Homo sapiens: one gene and its partners. The protein of the gene in region 1 interacts with the protein of each later gene in a biochemical or structural test. Each region holds a gene or a part of one and is shown on either strand. Other genes may lie near its edges.

Region 1 (3,503 bases):
ACACCCGACATCTTAACGTAAGTGCCCCAAGCCTGGGGGTGGACGGGGGTGAGGGGACAATGAACAGGCAGGAAGTCGGGGAGATAAAACCTAAGCACGGGAGGAGTAGGGATGAAGACAAGTGGGGCGGAGGACAGGATGGGATGAGGAAGCAGAGAGAAAGCAAACCTCTTAATAACCAAAACCGGTTCTGAGTTGCCTTCCTCCACTTTCTAAGCAGGCGGCACTTCACAATTGATGACTTTGAGATTGGGCGTCCTCTGGGCAAAGGCAAGTTTGGAAACGTGTACTTGGCTCGGGAGAAGAAAAGCCATTTCATCGTGGCGCTCAAGGTCCTCTTCAAGTCCCAGATAGAGAAGGAGGGCGTGGAGCATCAGCTGCGCAGAGAGATCGAAATCCAGGCCCACCTGCAGTATGGGTTGATGCCCCCTGAGCCGAAGCCCCTCTGCTCCCTCACCCCCAGCTCCTCATTCAGCCCCACTTCATCCAGATTGCTTTCTCTGTAGCTATGGCTAGTGAGCCCCATTTAGCTCTTAGTCCTGGCAAGCCTTGAATCCAGAAATCTGCCTCCAGTTTCCCCTTACCACTCCCAGCCCTGGTGTCCCCGGCCTGGGCCACGTCTGACCCCAGTTTGCTCCTATCATCTTTTCCAGCTCTTTTATGCCTTTGGCCTGAGGCCTCCTCTGTCTCTTCCCCCAGCCATCCCAACATCCTGCGTCTCTACAACTATTTTTATGACCGGAGGAGGATCTACTTGATTCTAGAGTATGCCCCCCGCGGGGAGCTCTACAAGGAGCTGCAGAAGAGCTGCACATTTGACGAGCAGCGAACAGCCACGGTCCGGGCGGGTGGGCACCTGGGGCGCCAGTAGGGGGCTCGAGGCTGAGGGTGTGCTGCTTGTAGCTGGAGGTCCATCCTTGTCTGATTGCCTGTCGTTGCCCCTCCCAGATCATGGAGGAGTTGGCAGATGCTCTAATGTACTGCCATGGGAAGAAGGTGATTCACAGAGACATAAAGCCAGAAAATCTGCTCTTAGGGCTCAAGGGAGAGCTGAAGATTGCTGACTTCGGCTGGTCTGTGCATGCGCCCTCCCTGAGGTATGGTGGCCTGGGAGGCCAGACCTGGGTGTGAGGCTGGGCCATTAAAACCTCTCCAGGGGCCGTGCACCGTGGCTCACACCTGTAATCCCAGCACTTTGGGAGGCCGAGGAGGGCGGATCACCTGAGGTCAGGAGTTCGAGACTAGATTTGCCAACATGATGAAACCTTGTCTCTACTAAATATACAAAAATTAGCCGGCCATGGTGGCGGACGCCAGTAATCCCAGCTACTGGGGAGGCTGAGGCAGGAGAATTGTTTGAACCTGGGAGGCGGAGGTTGCAGTGAGCCGAGATTACGCCATTGCACTCCAGCCTGTGTGACAGATCGAGACTCTGTCTCAAAAAAAAAAAAAAAAAATGGTTAGAGTGTGGTGCTAATAACCCCAAGGTCGCAGGTTTGATCCCTGTAGGGGCCAATGGTAAAACTTTGGCCAGGCGCGGTGGCTCACGCCTACCAGTCCCAGCACTTTGGGAGGCCAAGGCGGGTGGATCACTTGAGGCCAGGAGTTCAAGACCAGCGGACCAGCCTGGCCAACATGATGAAACCCCATCTTTACTAAAAACACAAAATTTATTAAGCAGACATGGTGGTGCACACTTGTAATCCCAGCTGTTCGGGAGGCTGAGACATGAGAATCACTTGAACCCGGGAGGCAGAGGTTGCAGTGAGCCAAGATCGCCCCACTGCACTCCAGCCTGGACTCTCTCAAAAAAAGCCCGGAGCAGTGGCCTTTTTTCCTCCCACATCACTTTTTAATGGTTTCATAGTATCACATAGTAGCTGATTTATTTAACCAGAACATGCCTGATGGGCATTAGAGATGTCCCCAGTGAACTCCAAATGAACACTGCCCTCATATCAGGGTATCTTATTAAGATATATCCTTCAGTGTGGAGTTGCTGGGCTGTGTGCAGGCTCACCTCTGGGGCTTTGGGATATATCATCACCCCAACCCCACCCCCACTCCAGTGGCCTTGCCTGGCTGGACCTCTCCCCTGGTACATCCCGTGGTCTTTTGGCTCCCAGCCGTCAGGCAGCAGGGAAAGGAGAGTTCCTATGTCACTAGGACCCCTGCCCACGCCCCTTATCCCTCCCAGGAGGAAGACAATGTGTGGCACCCTGGACTACCTGCCCCCAGAGATGATTGAGGGGCGCATGCACAATGAGAAGGTGGATCTGTGGTGCATTGGAGTGCTTTGCTATGAGCTGCTGGTGGGGAACCCACCCTTTGAGAGTGCATCACACAACGAGACCTATCGCCGCATCGTCAAGGTGGGAGGGCGGCCTGGGCTTCGTGCCAGCTGCTGAAGCCAGGAGCTGGGGGGCTGGGGGTGGGCAGAGTGTATTTGCATGGCCCTAAGTAACTCCAAACAGAATGGGTAGTCAAGGAAGATGTAGCCAGGGTGAAACTAATGCAGCCCTTCCATCTCTTCACACCTGCAGGTGGACCTAAAGTTCCCCGCTTCCGTGCCCATGGGAGCCCAGGACCTCATCTCCAAACTGCTCAGGCATAACCCCTCGGAACGGCTGCCCCTGGCCCAGGTCTCAGCCCACCCTTGGGTCCGGGCCAACTCTCGGAGGGTGCTGCCTCCCTCTGCCCTTCAATCTGTCGCCTGATGGTCCCTGTCATTCACTCGGGTGCGTGTGTTTGTATGTCTGTGTATGTATAGGGGAAAGAAGGGATCCCTAACTGTTCCCTTATCTGTTTTCTACCTCCTCCTTTGTTTAATAAAGGCTGAAGCTTTTTGTACTCATGAGTGTAGATGTTTCTAGGTGGAGGCTTTGCTGTGGAGGAAGCTGTTCCCTAGAAGGAGAGCTGGCTCACCCTGAGGAGCCGGGATGAGCATTACTTTGCTATCCCTGGTAACACCCTACCCTCTCAGCTCTGACACCCACCTGGTCAGCTCCCAGCCACCCCAACCCCTACCCCCACTTCCACCTCTACCCTCACTGTCTATTCTTTCCGTTGCTCAGACTCCCACAGCCCAGGGGCACTGGGGGCCCTGGCTCCCCATTGCTACATTGGAACACCAGCCATCTCTGGCCACCTTCTTTCACCTCTCTCTTGGTTGTCCAACTTCTAGTTTTTCCTTTTCTGTTTCATTCTCTGCCCCTTTGCCAACGTAGGAGCAACTAAACAGTTCTGTACCCTAGAAGCTGTCTTTGATTATTTCACTGCTCTGGTCAGGATCTAGTACAGGAGCCAATAGAAGCAGCAGTGATTCTGTCTTGTTCCTGACATGAGGTTACACTGTTATGCATGATGCTTGCTGTAGGTTTTTGATAGATACCCTTTATCAGGTTAAACAGGGCCTATTCTACTCATAGTTTACTCAGAGTCTTTAAAAAAAAAAACAAAAACAAAAAAACAGTTAAGTCTGGGCGCAGTGACTCATGCCTGTA
Region 2 (7,000 bases), on another chromosome or scaffold:
AAATTTAGATGACACCACCAGAAAAAGTACAGCTGTAATCCTAACTAAGGACATGAAGTCTTGGAAACACATTAAGTACCCTAAACAAGCATACACAGATAGATCTCTATATATCCCATTATATGAAGCTTATATTAGAGCACAAAAGTTCTGTGTAAAAATTCATATGACAATTCAAAACAAACTTAAGTTTATCCTTTTCCACTGTATGAATGAATTGAAATGCAGCCTAAACAGTGAAATGGACAGGATTCTGTCCTAAGTTACTACTTCAAAGAGTACCAGTACTGGTTGGGAGCAGTGGCTCACGCCTGTAATCCCAGCACTTTGGGAGGCCGAGGCAGGTGGATCACCTGAGGTCAGGAGTTCAAGACCAGCCTGGCCAACATGGTGAAACCCCGTTTCTACTAAAAATACAAAAATTAGCCAGGCATGGTGGCAGGCACCTGTATCCCAGCTGCTTGGGAGGCCGACGCAGGAGAATTGCTTGAACCCGGGAGGCGGACGTTGCGTTCAGCCGAGATCGCGCCATTGCACTCCAGCCTGGGAAATGAGCAAAACTCCGTCTCAAAAAAAAGAAAAAAAAAAAAAAAAAAGAATATCAATACTGTCCCCACAGCATGAATTCATCTGTAGTATGTGCTTAACAATGGCTAGAGCAACATGACAGGAATGCAGTATCATGGCAAAATTTCCAAAAATAACTCCATTATTACTTTGTTTTAAAAAAAGACTAAACAAATCATACATACCCTCTTTTCTCTCTTCTTCAGTTTGAAAGTCTTCACCAAAGAAGAGTCCCAATCCTGTTGACAATTACACTGTATTAATTTCTTTTTTTGGTTAGGCCATCCCTAAACCCTGTGCAAATAAATTTACAGAGAACTTTAAAGGCTTCTTCAGTCAGGCTACCTAACGTACAATTCGGGGAGGGTTAGAGAAGGGAAGGTCTCAAGTGTTGTAGCTATAGAGCTATAGTAAGTTAATGTGCTTTCTTTGAAAAATTGAAGCTATTATAATAAAATCAGGAATCAATACCACAGAGGCAAGAAGAGGTTAAAGAATCAAATTCTGCCATATTTCCAGTGGCTGATCCTTTATTTCTGATTATTTTTGTAATTAGTTTTAGAACTTACAGAATGTTAGGCACTATACTGATTGTATTAGATGTGATTCTTGCCCCCAAGGGATTGCCACTGTCTAATCAAATGCTCTGCATAATATTGCCACTTCACAAGTTCCACAGTTGCCAGGCGATGGCTCATGCCTGTAATCCCAGCACTTTGAGAGGCCAAGGTGGGCGGATCATGAGGTCAGGATATCGAGACCATCCTGGCTAACACGGTGAAACCCCGTCTCTACTAAAAAAATACAAAAAAATTAGCCAGGCGTGGTGGCGGGCGCCTGCAGTCCCAGCTACTCTGGAGGCTGAGGCAGGAGAATGGCATAAACCCGGGAGGCGGAGCTTGCAGTGAGCTGAGATTGCGCCACTGCATTCTAGCCTGGGTGACAGAGTGAGACTCTGTCTCAAAAAAAAAAAAAAAAAAAAAGTTCTACAGTTTAGGAACTTAGGCCCTAAAACGTGTCCACCACTGAAGAACTATTTGTCTTTTATTGTGGTCTCATTTCAATTCACCTATTTTAACTATTTGCATTCATTTTAGTAGTTACCTGTGATTTCCTTACTCCTGATCATCCCTGAAAACAGTATCTAGAAACAGTGGTATACAGCAAATAATAGCTTAGCTAAATAAATTTAACTTCCCCAAGTCATGGTCCAGTAATTTAGTTACTGGTTGTTTGATTCAGCTTCAGTTACAAGAAATATCGTATCATAGGTCTAGCTCAAAAATCAACTGATAATATGATCTAGTTTTATTATATATTCCAGACCTCCACTATATCATTCCCTATTTGAGAAAGGTGATGCCTAATATTTTTATCTATAAAATGGCCGTATTTTCCCTGGTCAAACACTGAATCTGAACAGAAAACTCCTAGCCATGTAACAAATAGTTGTCACCTGTTTTGCTATACCAGAAAACCAGTCACCAAAAACTTCCTGATTTGTTTTGTTTGCTAGTTTTCAGCTAGTAACAGAAAAGATGCACAAATCAATGAACTATATCAAAGACTGTATCAGGAGATGACCTTTTATGCAGAAGCATCACTGTAAGTTAAAAGAAGTGTGCCGCCCCATAAAAGCAGGGCAACAAATAGTTTAACATGTTAACCATTGTTGATGAAAGCATTATATAGTGCCTAGAAACTCTAATCACACTTTTCTGGCTGAAATCCCAGGACCTTGGTTTCCTTCTAATTGTGAAGTATGACTATGCTTTCCCCAAGAACCAAACTAATTCAGAAATAAGGCACAAGTCTATTTAAGAGCAGCAAATAAACCCTGACGACATACAGTCTTGCTAATATTTTTATTATTAGCTGGGGCTTTAATAAGTCAAAATATAATCAGTTAGTACATGTGGCACACAGAGATCTATTAAATGAACTCAACTTATGCCAAATTCTGAATTATATATTCTCACTTCAGAAACTAATATATAAGCCAGCCTCTTATAGCTCATGTGGATTTATATTTTAAATTGCTAGCTCAGAATCTATAACACATCAACTAATAAAATAGTAATATAGGATGTTCAGAAGAGAAGACAGGAGAGATATTCCTGGGGAAGCAGAGGTAAGAAAAGTAGGTAATTCTCAGAGATCAAATGTTTATTACCAGTGATTCATCAGTCTTGTCAAAGCTGATATCTGATAAAATGGAACCAGATTCATCAATGGTTGATAGTCTAGATCAGTGAAACAATACAACGTTAGACATGGTAGACTGTGGAATGTAAAATTCACCAACATTCAGAACAAGTCCTACTGGTCAGGTAACATCAGTTAATTTCATAGCAAAATCTTCACTATAGAGACAATTACAATCTCAAACCCTGTGGTAGGCTACTTTGTATGGTTTCCACGGAGGAGTGTGTGTGCATGAGTACAGGTGCAACACAGTTGCTTTTTCAGCAAAGACCTTATAAGGGCAGTTGAAAGTTAGTCAGGGTTATGGGTGCTATTCTCTACCGAGTTTGTATTACAGGCTACTCCAAATTCACAAAATCAAGGGAATGAAGTTTAATTTGATCCCAACTGTGCTGGTTTCTACAAACAAGAGTATTACCCAACACTGACTTTTTAAGAAATTAAGCCTGTACATCTTCTTAGTTATAAAGATTCCCCATAAAACAACCAGGCAACAAAATAAATAGCTGACCTTTCCCTACATATTGTACTGGGGATGTTAAATTCAAAGCCTGGTTGAGACTATTTTAAACAGTGGTGCAGTGGAACCAAAATTATTGTCTGGTCTTGGCTCACAGAGGCCTTTCTAAACCAGAAGAGCTGTAAGAGCTCTCTGGAGAGTAAACACTGAAAGTATTGCTGAACTGCCACTTTCACCTTTGGGTTTCTTAGCAATGCACAGGATTAGTTATTGATGTGCAATTTAGCACCAACATCAAAATTGTATCCATGGTGAAACAACATCCTTAGGAAAGATTTAAAAATAAAATAAAATAAAATATACAGGGACATCCCTGTGCCTTTATTCCCCACCTACTCTCCCCACAAAATCTTTTTCTGCTTTTTTCAGCACACATTCTAGAAGAAGTATATTTAAGAATTCAGATAACAAGAATATCTGACAGCCTGTGTTGCTTGTGATAGGATAACAACAGATGCAGTTCCTCCACCTTTTGTTCCCAGCATTGCTGCTGGATGGTTGGCCTCTGTTGAGAAAAGCCAGAGCTGATTTTTGCTCCTCGCTTAGTTGAATGCTGCCAGATGTGTCACACATGAGCATCTCTCGAATCAGCTGAATCTGTCGTTCCTACAGACCAAAGCAAAGTAAAACATCATAACTAGCCAGGGGAGAAAGCTTCACCTCAAGTTTATGGGACAGGCAGACCAGAAGACATTAAAATGCAGCATTATGCAAATGGACCTTCAGGAAGGCTGCTACACCAATAGCATATTAATTCACATCAAACCCAGATTGTGTCTCTGATTTCTGACTGGTAAAATGAACTACATCTAGAACAGCGAAGTTTCTGCTACAAGACTTTTGGATTAACCTGCTAATCCAAGAGGAGAATAATGCAAAATGAGAGTCCCAAAATAGATTTCACATAGCAAAAACACTTTAGTGTCATTTTATCAGGACAAATATTGGCTTCTACGGATCAAAGCAGCCACCCACCTCTCAAAGTAGTGGAGCAAAATGCATTAAAATGGATACAAAGCTATAATGCACTGGAACCAGACAATTTGAGTTTACTGAGGCATCTAACACTGTATACCAAGATGGATTAGTCCCTCCCAGTAAAGGCTTTCCTTTGCATTATGACCCATCCTGGCACATCAAAATGATAGTGTTCTGTGTCAGTCACATTGCTCAACTGGTTGAATACATCTAGCCTTTTACCCTGAATTAGAGAGGGGTGATGAAAAGAAGAGTCACAGTTGTCTTGCCTGTATGTATGACAAAGTACCAGCTACTCATGTAAGGATGGATATTCCGGGTAGCACTTAAAATAAACAATGAAGGATGGCCAATAACTTGTGACAGATCAAGTACGTTAGGATCTCCCTCCCTCCCTTTTCCTCTAATTCTTTAAGTTCTCATTTGAAATCTGTCTGTTAAGTAAGTTTCAAGTCTAAGTGACAAAAACATTTAAATTTCAAATTATGAAGAACAAGATTCCTAGTCTGCAATTTCAGCTCTAATCATGGGCAAGCTGTTAAAGAACAGGTCACTTTCAGTTCTTTAATGTGGAAGAAGAAACTAGGTATATTTGGCAAGTGGAAACTGTCAGACAATGCCTTCCCCCTCCTGCATCATCACTGTTCTAGCACGGAAAACAATACACACCAGCTTTTCGCAGTCAGCCTCAGCTCTCTGTCTCCGTTTGATCTCTACATCCACCTGATTACGTGCATGCTTCAGCTTAACATCCAGAGCACTTCGCTCAGTCTCTGCTTTCATCAAAAGATCCTTGTATTTCCCCAGCTCATGGTCAGTCCTCTGCCACTTTTTACGGAAATCCTCAAAGTCCTTCGCCAACTGGATAAATTCTGAGGAAAGGGGGAATCTTTAATAATTCAAGCACCAAACAGAGTATAACTGCTCTAATAAATGAGTCCTACGGTTAGCTTTATTTGAAATTCATAATTAAGGAACCAGCTGAACTATGGGCAAATCCAGCTGAAAATAACTAGGAGCAGATCCTGGATATGTTTGTCACTCTGATGAGAACTTTGTGGGTAGCAATTCCTATTCAATAGGCCACTTACTTTTGGCTTAGCCAGTGGCATCTGCTATGGAATATGTAACTCATTAGTCACCTGGCTCCAGATGTAACACTAACACTGAAAGCTCCTGAACAGAAGGCAATCAAAGGGGGATACCTTTGGGGCAGCTGTCATGCACCAGGACAGTTACAGCTATAAAACAAAAACAGTTTCCTTTACAGTCACGCATTGCTGCACCAGAGAGATGTTAAACAGCAAATTCAAATGTAACTGCTGTAATATGCTCCAGTAGATGTAGATTAATATTACAGATGTCTAGACCTACAATTCCATTTGGCTATATAATTATACAAATATTGATTTGAAAGTAAAAAGCCAATTTGCTTTTGCTGTTTAACACTGCCCTGAAGGGTATGTAAACATTCCAGTTGAAAAAAAAAAAAACAGGAAGAGAAGATCAAACTAGCTTTTGGAACATCCCTGATAGCAGAATGTGAAGTCTCTTCAAATGTCTGCAAAGAGAACATCACTTCCAAGGCAGCATCTCAAAGGAAGAAGATAACCCTGTTGGCATTCATTCTTATCTCCTGCTATTGGCAAAGCTGTTCTGCAATGTATTTGCAAAAGTGCCTTACAATTTTCTAGTTAACCTCCGTCTATCTCTAAGGATCACTCTCCACCAACATCAAGGAAGAAGGTCTCAAGGTGTACATCTGCTGCTGGTCAAACTAACCCAGTTAAAACTGAAACTAGGCCAAATTCACACACAGCTAGCAGATTCTTAGGTAGTAAGGGCACTTTTCCCCTATGAATTTAACCTAAAAGCATAGAAACAATACATAGTCCTTTTTAAACAATTTTAATCATTTGACCAAATATCAAACTTACAAATCAGGATACCAATTTGTTCCAGAAAAACCAAGTAATAAGGAAACTTTAGTTTTTACAAACCACAAATTTCAGCAAAATAGGTTATTATGACCTAGTTATCTTAAACAATGCGGATATCAACAATTAAAAAAATATTACAATTCAAATAGTTTTAAGAAATAATATGCTGGGTTAGTCTGGAACATACTACTTTTTTGTGGGTTTTTTTTTTTAGCTTAAAGAAAAAAACATATATGTTTGCAAACTAAATACCGTATGCATACACACTCAAAATATTTACCGAACTGAAAAACAATTTTGAGAATAAAAAGATTTTCATCTGACCTAATTTTGCTGGTTTGTTTGTTCTTTAGGATACTCCTTTTATTAAATTACTGCTTCAGCTTAGTTTAAGTCAGACCCAAAGCAGAACATTTACATACCTGATTAATATATTACTTTTTGTGTGTGCAGGTGAGAAATGTGAAAAAAAAAAAAAAAAAAAAAAAAAGATATTACTTTTTTTTTTTTTGAGACAGAGTTTCACTCTTGTTGCCCAGGCAGAAGTGCAATGGCGCAATCTTGGCTCACTGCAATCTCCGCCTCCCAGGTTCAAGCAATTCTCCTGCCTCAGCCTCCTGAGTAGCTGGGATTACAGGTGTGTGTCACCATGCCCAGTTAATTTTTGTATTTGTAGTAGAGACGGGGTTTCACCATGTTGGCCAGGCTGGTCTCAAACTCCTAACCTCAGGTGATTCACCTGCCTTGGCCTCCAAAAGTGCTAGGATTACAGGTGTTAGCCACTGTGCCC
Region 3 (6,034 bases), on another chromosome or scaffold:
ACTTCCCTTCATAGCTGTCCTTTTAAAATAGCCAGACTTGTTAGGTCCACATACATTGCATCTGATTCCTCCCTTCCTAGTGACCCTACAACCCACTCCAATCTGACTCCCCACAACCACTACCCCCACTTCTAATCTGCTTGAACTACTCCTGTCAGGGTCACTAGCACCTTTTGTAGTGCCAAATCCAGTAGGTGGGTCTGTGTTCTTACTGTGTCTCAGAAGCATTTGACGCAGTGGGCCTCTTTCTCCTTGAAGCGTTCTGTTCCCTTGGCTTCCATGCCACTGTGCACTCTGGCAGTTCTGCTTGGTGTTCTCTACTGCCTGTGCTGCCTCCCTCGGCTCCTTGATGTTGGACTTCCTTGACATCCTTTTCCTTTCTACCCCCTCCCTAGGTGGTCTCATCTCCTCCGTGGCTCTAAATCCCACTCATACATTGACAGCTCTCAAATATCTGTATACCTGGATCTCTCCTCTGACCCCAGATACCTATATCTAACTGCCTTTCTACCTGAAGGCTCTTGGTTATGTTAAACTTAACACACCCAAAACTGAACTTCTGGTTACTCCCCTCCAGCCCCTTCATCCTCAGCTTCCCCATTTCAGTAAATGGCACAACTACCCACCCAGTTGTTCAAACCACAAGCCTGGGAGACCCCCGTCTCCAATACAAATGCAGGTCCAGATAATTCTACTTCCAAACTGCATCCTTAATCACTCCATTTTCACCATCTCTGCTCCCACTAGCCTAGTCCAAGCTACCAGCAGCTCTCGAGCAACTGTGAGAGCCTCCTAATCAGCTGCCACTCCACTTCCACTCTGTCCCTTTCTACTTCTTTCCTTACACAGCAGCTGGAATGACCTTCCACATCTCTATCCTGCATAAAACTCTTCCCTGGCTTCTTATTACAGTAGGATTAAATTCCATCTCCTCATGTTGGCATTTCAAGACCCAGCTACTAAATTTTTGATCCCAGTTCTTTTCCATGATCTCTCTAATTGGTTACTTTTCATAACCACTTGTTCTTGGGTCATGGATTTCATATCTCTGTTACCTCTCTGAGTTCATTAACCATTTTTCTCTCAAAGTTTCTATTTCTTTTCTCTATTAACTCAATTTCCTCTGGTATTGGCTATTTTGTTTGTTGAGTTTGGTTCCTTTCTTTCATGGTATTGGCCTTCTTAAATTGTTGGGTGATCTTTAGTTGTGTTCATCTTCAAATTTTCTGTGAATGCTATGTCTTGTTTATTTTTTTATTTTATTTTATTTATTTATATATTTTTGTTTGAGACACAGTCTCATTCTTGTTGCCCAGGCTAGAGTACAGTGGTGCGAGCTTGGCTCACTGCAACCTCCATCTCCTGGGTTCAAGCAATTCTCCTGCCTCAGCCTCCCAAGTAGCTGGGATTACAGGTGCCTGCCACCATGCCCGGCTAATTTTTGTATTTTTAGTAGAGATGGGTTTCTCCATGTTCATCAGGCTGGTCTCGAACTCCTGACCTCAGGTGATTGACCCACCTTGGCCTCCCAAAGTGCTGGGATTACAGGCGTGAGCCACCGCACCCAGCCCTATGTCTGTTTATTAAAGACTGCCTCCAGTGACTGGATTGCCAACTGGTGGTGGGGAGGGAGGGAGGTGTCAGTAGTTTTTCTCCTGGGCATGGGTCTTCCCAGTTTTAAATGTTATCAGTCTTCTGGACACTGCCCTGTTTCATTGGCCTGTGTTCTCTAGCCTCACCCAGGGATGGTCTCCTCTGCTGGCTGCCTGGCACAGGCCATCTCTGGATTGTCTCACCTACCCTACTTGCTCTTGCAGCTCTTCTAACACTTCGTGATTAGTTTATTGTATTAAATGCCTTCTATCGAACTTGGTGTAGAGTCTCTTTGCTTGGCTGGATCCTGAATAACATTTCTGAAACAATTTTATCCGTCAACATGTTATTTTTGTATTTTGTTTGTTCAACTTATCAGATGTTCACTCATCTTGATCCTTGGTTGTAATTATGGAGCAACTGTGCTGTTTTTTCTTTAACTTTATTTTCACTAACTTATTTTCTAATATTTCTTTTGTTCTATCTTGTTTTGGTTTACTTTAATAACTCTGTAATACTTAATTTGACTGCTTGGCTCAGATACCTTTTAGTGTTCTTGTTTTCTAATAGGAACACTTTAAGGCTATGCATTTTCCTCTAGTACTATTTTGGCTGTATCTCATAAGTTTTGGGATATGGGCTTTTTATTGTTATTCATTTCCAAATAGTCTAATTTCAATTAAGTTTCCTCTTCAACACAGGTTAGTTAGAAGAAACTGGTTTTTGATTCATGAGTTTTTAATTTCCAATTAGAGAATTTGGCTTTTTTGATTCCTACTTTTGGGAATGTTTTTAAAATTATTTTCTTTTTTGTTCTTGTTGGAACCAGGATTTGAGCCAAAGGCTCTGTCTCCACAGCCCAGGTGCCTGACACTGACACTGAGTTAGGCCACACCTTACACAGGTCTCAGCTTGGCCACTAATGAGGGCTGGCCAACCATCTTCACCTCGCTGGGCCTCAGGATGATCAAGACAAGGGAATTGTACTAGTCTCTCAGATTCTTTCCAGCTGTAAAAAACAAACCAACAAAAAATCTAAAACCAAAATAACTGAGCTTCCAATCTAGGTGGGAAAGATCTAAGACTTGTACAAAGTCCTGCAAAGCCCAGAGGAGGGCGGTCACCCATCTGTTTGGAAGGATCAGGATTCGGGAAAGACTTCATGGAAGAGTTAGCATTTAAAATCAACTGCAGAGGATCATTCACTCATTCATTTAACAAATGTTTATTTAGCACCTATCTGCTATTTTCTAATTGCTGAAGATAGCAGCAAAATTACTATATATCAGGTTGGTGCAAAAGTATTGTGGTTTTTGCCATAACTGCAATGACTTTTGCAGCAACCTAATAAAACAGACAAAAATCCCTGCTCTGTGGAGGGTAGGCACATAGATATAGTCTAGCAATTTGACAGCTTACCTGACTCAGCCAAGCTGCGAGGCACCACCTATTTTCCACTGAACTTACCTTTCTTTTGCTCAGGCGCTTCCTCCCATCAACACAGTCGGCGGAGACAAGGTTGGCTAAAGGAGATCCGAAAGCTTCAGAAGAGCACACACCTCTTGATAAGGAAGCTGCCCTTCAGCCGCCTGGTAAGCTCCGGGAGCTTCCCACCAACCCCTATGCCACCCTCCTTTTTTTAAATTTTCCCAGGTATTAGGGACCCTACTGTCTCTTAACTAACTGGCCAAGGGACCTCTTTTGTAACCTGGTAGGGGATTCTTTTCTGAAAACATGAGCCCTCCAAGAGCACCTTGTAATTCTTTATGGAATTGATTTCTAACCTCTACTACCTTTTTAAAACTGTAGTTTTTGACTGTATAAATAGGAACTCTCTCGTTTGTCCACCTTAGATCCCTTTTCCTATCCTGGGAGATTGCCTCTCATCACCCAATTACTGGTGATTTCCCCATCACCAGTAAGAGATCCGCCAGTTCCTAAGCTCCCAGGAGTCAACACCTGCTCCTAATTGGGTCCTAAGATTAAGAGCCAGGAAAAAATAATGGAAAGGAAGATTCACTGGAACTCATGGAGAGCATCATTGTCCCTTGAATCTCTCTTCTGTTACTCCCTACTCCTACTCCTCCCCTTCCCCACTCCTTCACAGGCAAGAGAAATATGTGTTAAATTCACTCGTGGTGTGGACTTCAATTGGCAAGCCCAGGCCCTATTGGCCCTACAAGAGGTAAGAAGGCACCAAGGCACAATTGGGTGAGGGCTGAGTGGGAGAAAGAGGCAGCCTAGAATTCTCCAGTGCTGACTGGAGTGTCACATGCTGAATCTGACCTCTGGAAAAGAACAATGAGGTAACCTCTGAGGGTTTGGAGGCTGGATTCTGCGTGGTGATAGCAGAATTCCCTGGCAAAGTTCAGTCTCATTCTGTGAATAGTTTCCTACAATCCTTTGAGCCCTCAGAGATTAAGTTTAGCAGGTTTCCAAAAAAAAGCAGCCCGTGGCCCTTCATCTGTGTCCGTCTTTTTCTCTTTCTGTCTCCAGGCAGCAGAAGCATTTCTAGTTCATCTCTTTGAGGACGCCTATCTCCTCACCTTACATGCAGGCCGAGTTACTCTCTTCCCAAAGGATGTGCAACTGGCCCGGAGGATCCGGGGCCTTGAGGAGGGACTCGGCTGAGCTCCTGCACCCAGTGTTTCTGTCAGTCTTTCCTGCTCAGCCAGGGGGTAAGCTCATCCTCTTTCACAGGACTGGGGCTGGAATTTCTCAAGTAATTTCCTTTCTCCATCCATAGTCCCTTGTCACCTCGCCTTCCCTTTGTTCTCTAGTAAAGGTTGATCTAGTTTTGACTGCCTGGGACAATGTGGTTTGTGCCCTTTTGTGCAATGTTAGATAAAAGATATCTTTCTATTAAATAATAACCAGATGACCCTAATTTCTTTTGGTTGTTATTGTTGTTGTTTTATTTTTATAAGACAGGGTCTCTGTCATCAGTGTTGCCATCGTGGCTCACTGCAACTCCTGCCTTGGCCTCCCAAAGTGTTGAGATTACAAGAATCAGATGACCTCATTTTGATTAAGAGAAAACTTTCTAATAAACTTTCTAATAAAAGAGAACACTTTCTAATAAAAACTTTCTCTTTTTTGATTAAGAGAAAGTTTTCTTACTTTTGAAAATGGCTTGTTAGTAAGTGTGCTTCCTTAATTTCAGGGATGATACCGGGGACTCTCCAGAGCCATGACTAGATCCAATGGATTCTGCGATGCTGTCTGGACTTTGCTGTCTCTGAACAGTATGTGTGTGTTGCTTTAAATATTTTTCTTTTTTTTGAGAAGGAGAAGACTGCATGACTTTCCTCTGTAACAGAGGTAATATATGAGACAATCAACACCGTTCCAAAGGCCTGAAAATAATTTTCAGATAAAGAGACTCCAAGGTTGACTTTAGTTTGTGAGTTACTCATGTGACTATTTGAGGATTTTGAAAACATCAGATTTGCTGTGGTATGGGAGAAAAGGCTATGTACTTATTATTTTAGCTCTTTCTGTAATATTTACATTTTTTACCATATGTACATTTGTACTTTTATTTTACACATAAGGGAAAAAATAAGACCACTTTGAGCAGTTGCCTGGAAGGCTGGGCATTTCCATCATATAGACCTCTGCCCTTCAGAGTAGCCTCACCATTAGTGGCAGCATCATGTAACTGAGTGGACTGTGCTTGTCAACGGATGTGTAGCTTTTCAGAAACTTAATTGGGGATGAATAGAAAACCTGTAAGCTTTGATGTTCTGGTTACTTCTAGTAAATTCCTGTCAAAATCAATTCAGAAATTCTAACTTGGAGAATTTAACATTTTACTCTTGTAAATCATAGAAGATGTATCATAACAGTTCAGAATTTTAAAGTACATTTTCGATGCTTTTATGGGTATTTTTGTAGTTTCTTTGTAGAGAGATAATAAAAATCAAAATATTTAATGAAAATGGACTTACTGTTACAGCATAGAGATTATACTGTACTTTTTGTGTGTTAAAAATAAGTTCTTTATTTGTTTGCAAACAGCCACAATTTTTTTTTCTTTTTTTTTTTTTTGAGATGGAGTCTTTTTTTTTATTGATCATTCTTGGGTGTTTCTCGCAGAGGGGGATTTGGCAGGGTCATAGGACAATAGTGGAGGGAAGGTCAGCAGATAAACAAGTGAACAAAGGTCTCTGGTTTTCCGAGGCAGAGGACCCTGCGGCCTTCCGCAGTGTTTGTGTCCCTGGGTACTTGAGATTAGGGAGTGGTGATGACTCTTAATGAGCATGCTGCCTTCAAGCATCTGTTTAACAAAGCACATCTTGCACCGCCCTTAATCCATTTAACCCTGAGTGGACACAGCACATGTTTCAGAGAGCACAGGGTTGGGGGTAAGGTCACAGATCAACAGGATCCCAAGGCAGAAGAATTTTTCTTAGTACAGAACAAAATGAAAAGTTTCCCA

The links. The genes of interacting proteins can lie anywhere in the genome.
Region 2: of the proteins of AURKB (region 1) and RACGAP1, one has a biochemical effect on the other in vitro, tested with the Homo sapiens proteins (2 studies listed by BioGRID and IntAct).
Region 3: of the proteins of AURKB (region 1) and CENPA, one has a biochemical effect on the other in vitro, tested with the Homo sapiens proteins (3 studies listed by BioGRID).

Annotation. Positions count from the first base shown.
Region 1 is NC_000017.11:8,204,085-8,207,587, reverse strand, and holds the end of AURKB (aurora kinase B), read left to right. Parts: coding exon 1-17; intron 18-217; coding exon of another isoform or gene 218-220; coding exon 221-412; intron 413-653; coding exon of another isoform or gene 654-699; coding exon 700-838; coding exon of another isoform or gene 839-848; intron 849-948; coding exon 949-1,097; intron 1,098-2,197; coding exon 2,198-2,372; intron 2,373-2,543; coding exon 2,544-2,717; 3' UTR 2,718-2,854; downstream 2,855-3,503. UniProt on the Homo sapiens protein: Serine/threonine-protein kinase component of the chromosomal passenger complex (CPC), a complex that acts as a key regulator of mitosis.
Region 2 is NC_000012.12:50,001,495-50,008,494, forward strand, and holds part of RACGAP1 (rac GTPase-activating protein 1), read right to left. Parts: intron 5,143-7,000; coding exon 4,940-5,142; intron 3,899-4,939; coding exon 3,762-3,898; intron 2,811-3,761; coding exon 2,741-2,810; intron 807-2,740; coding exon 753-806; intron 1-752.
Region 3 is NC_000002.12:26,789,056-26,795,089, forward strand, and holds the end of CENPA (histone H3-like centromeric protein A), read left to right. Parts: intron 1-3,075; coding exon 3,076-3,185; intron 3,186-3,700; coding exon 3,701-3,778; intron 3,779-4,089; coding exon 4,090-4,224; 3' UTR 4,225-4,271; intron 4,272-4,756; 3' UTR 4,757-5,534; downstream 5,535-6,034. UniProt on the Homo sapiens protein: Histone H3-like nucleosomal protein that is specifically found in centromeric nucleosomes. Replaces conventional H3 in the nucleosome core of centromeric chromatin that serves as an assembly site for the inner kinetochore.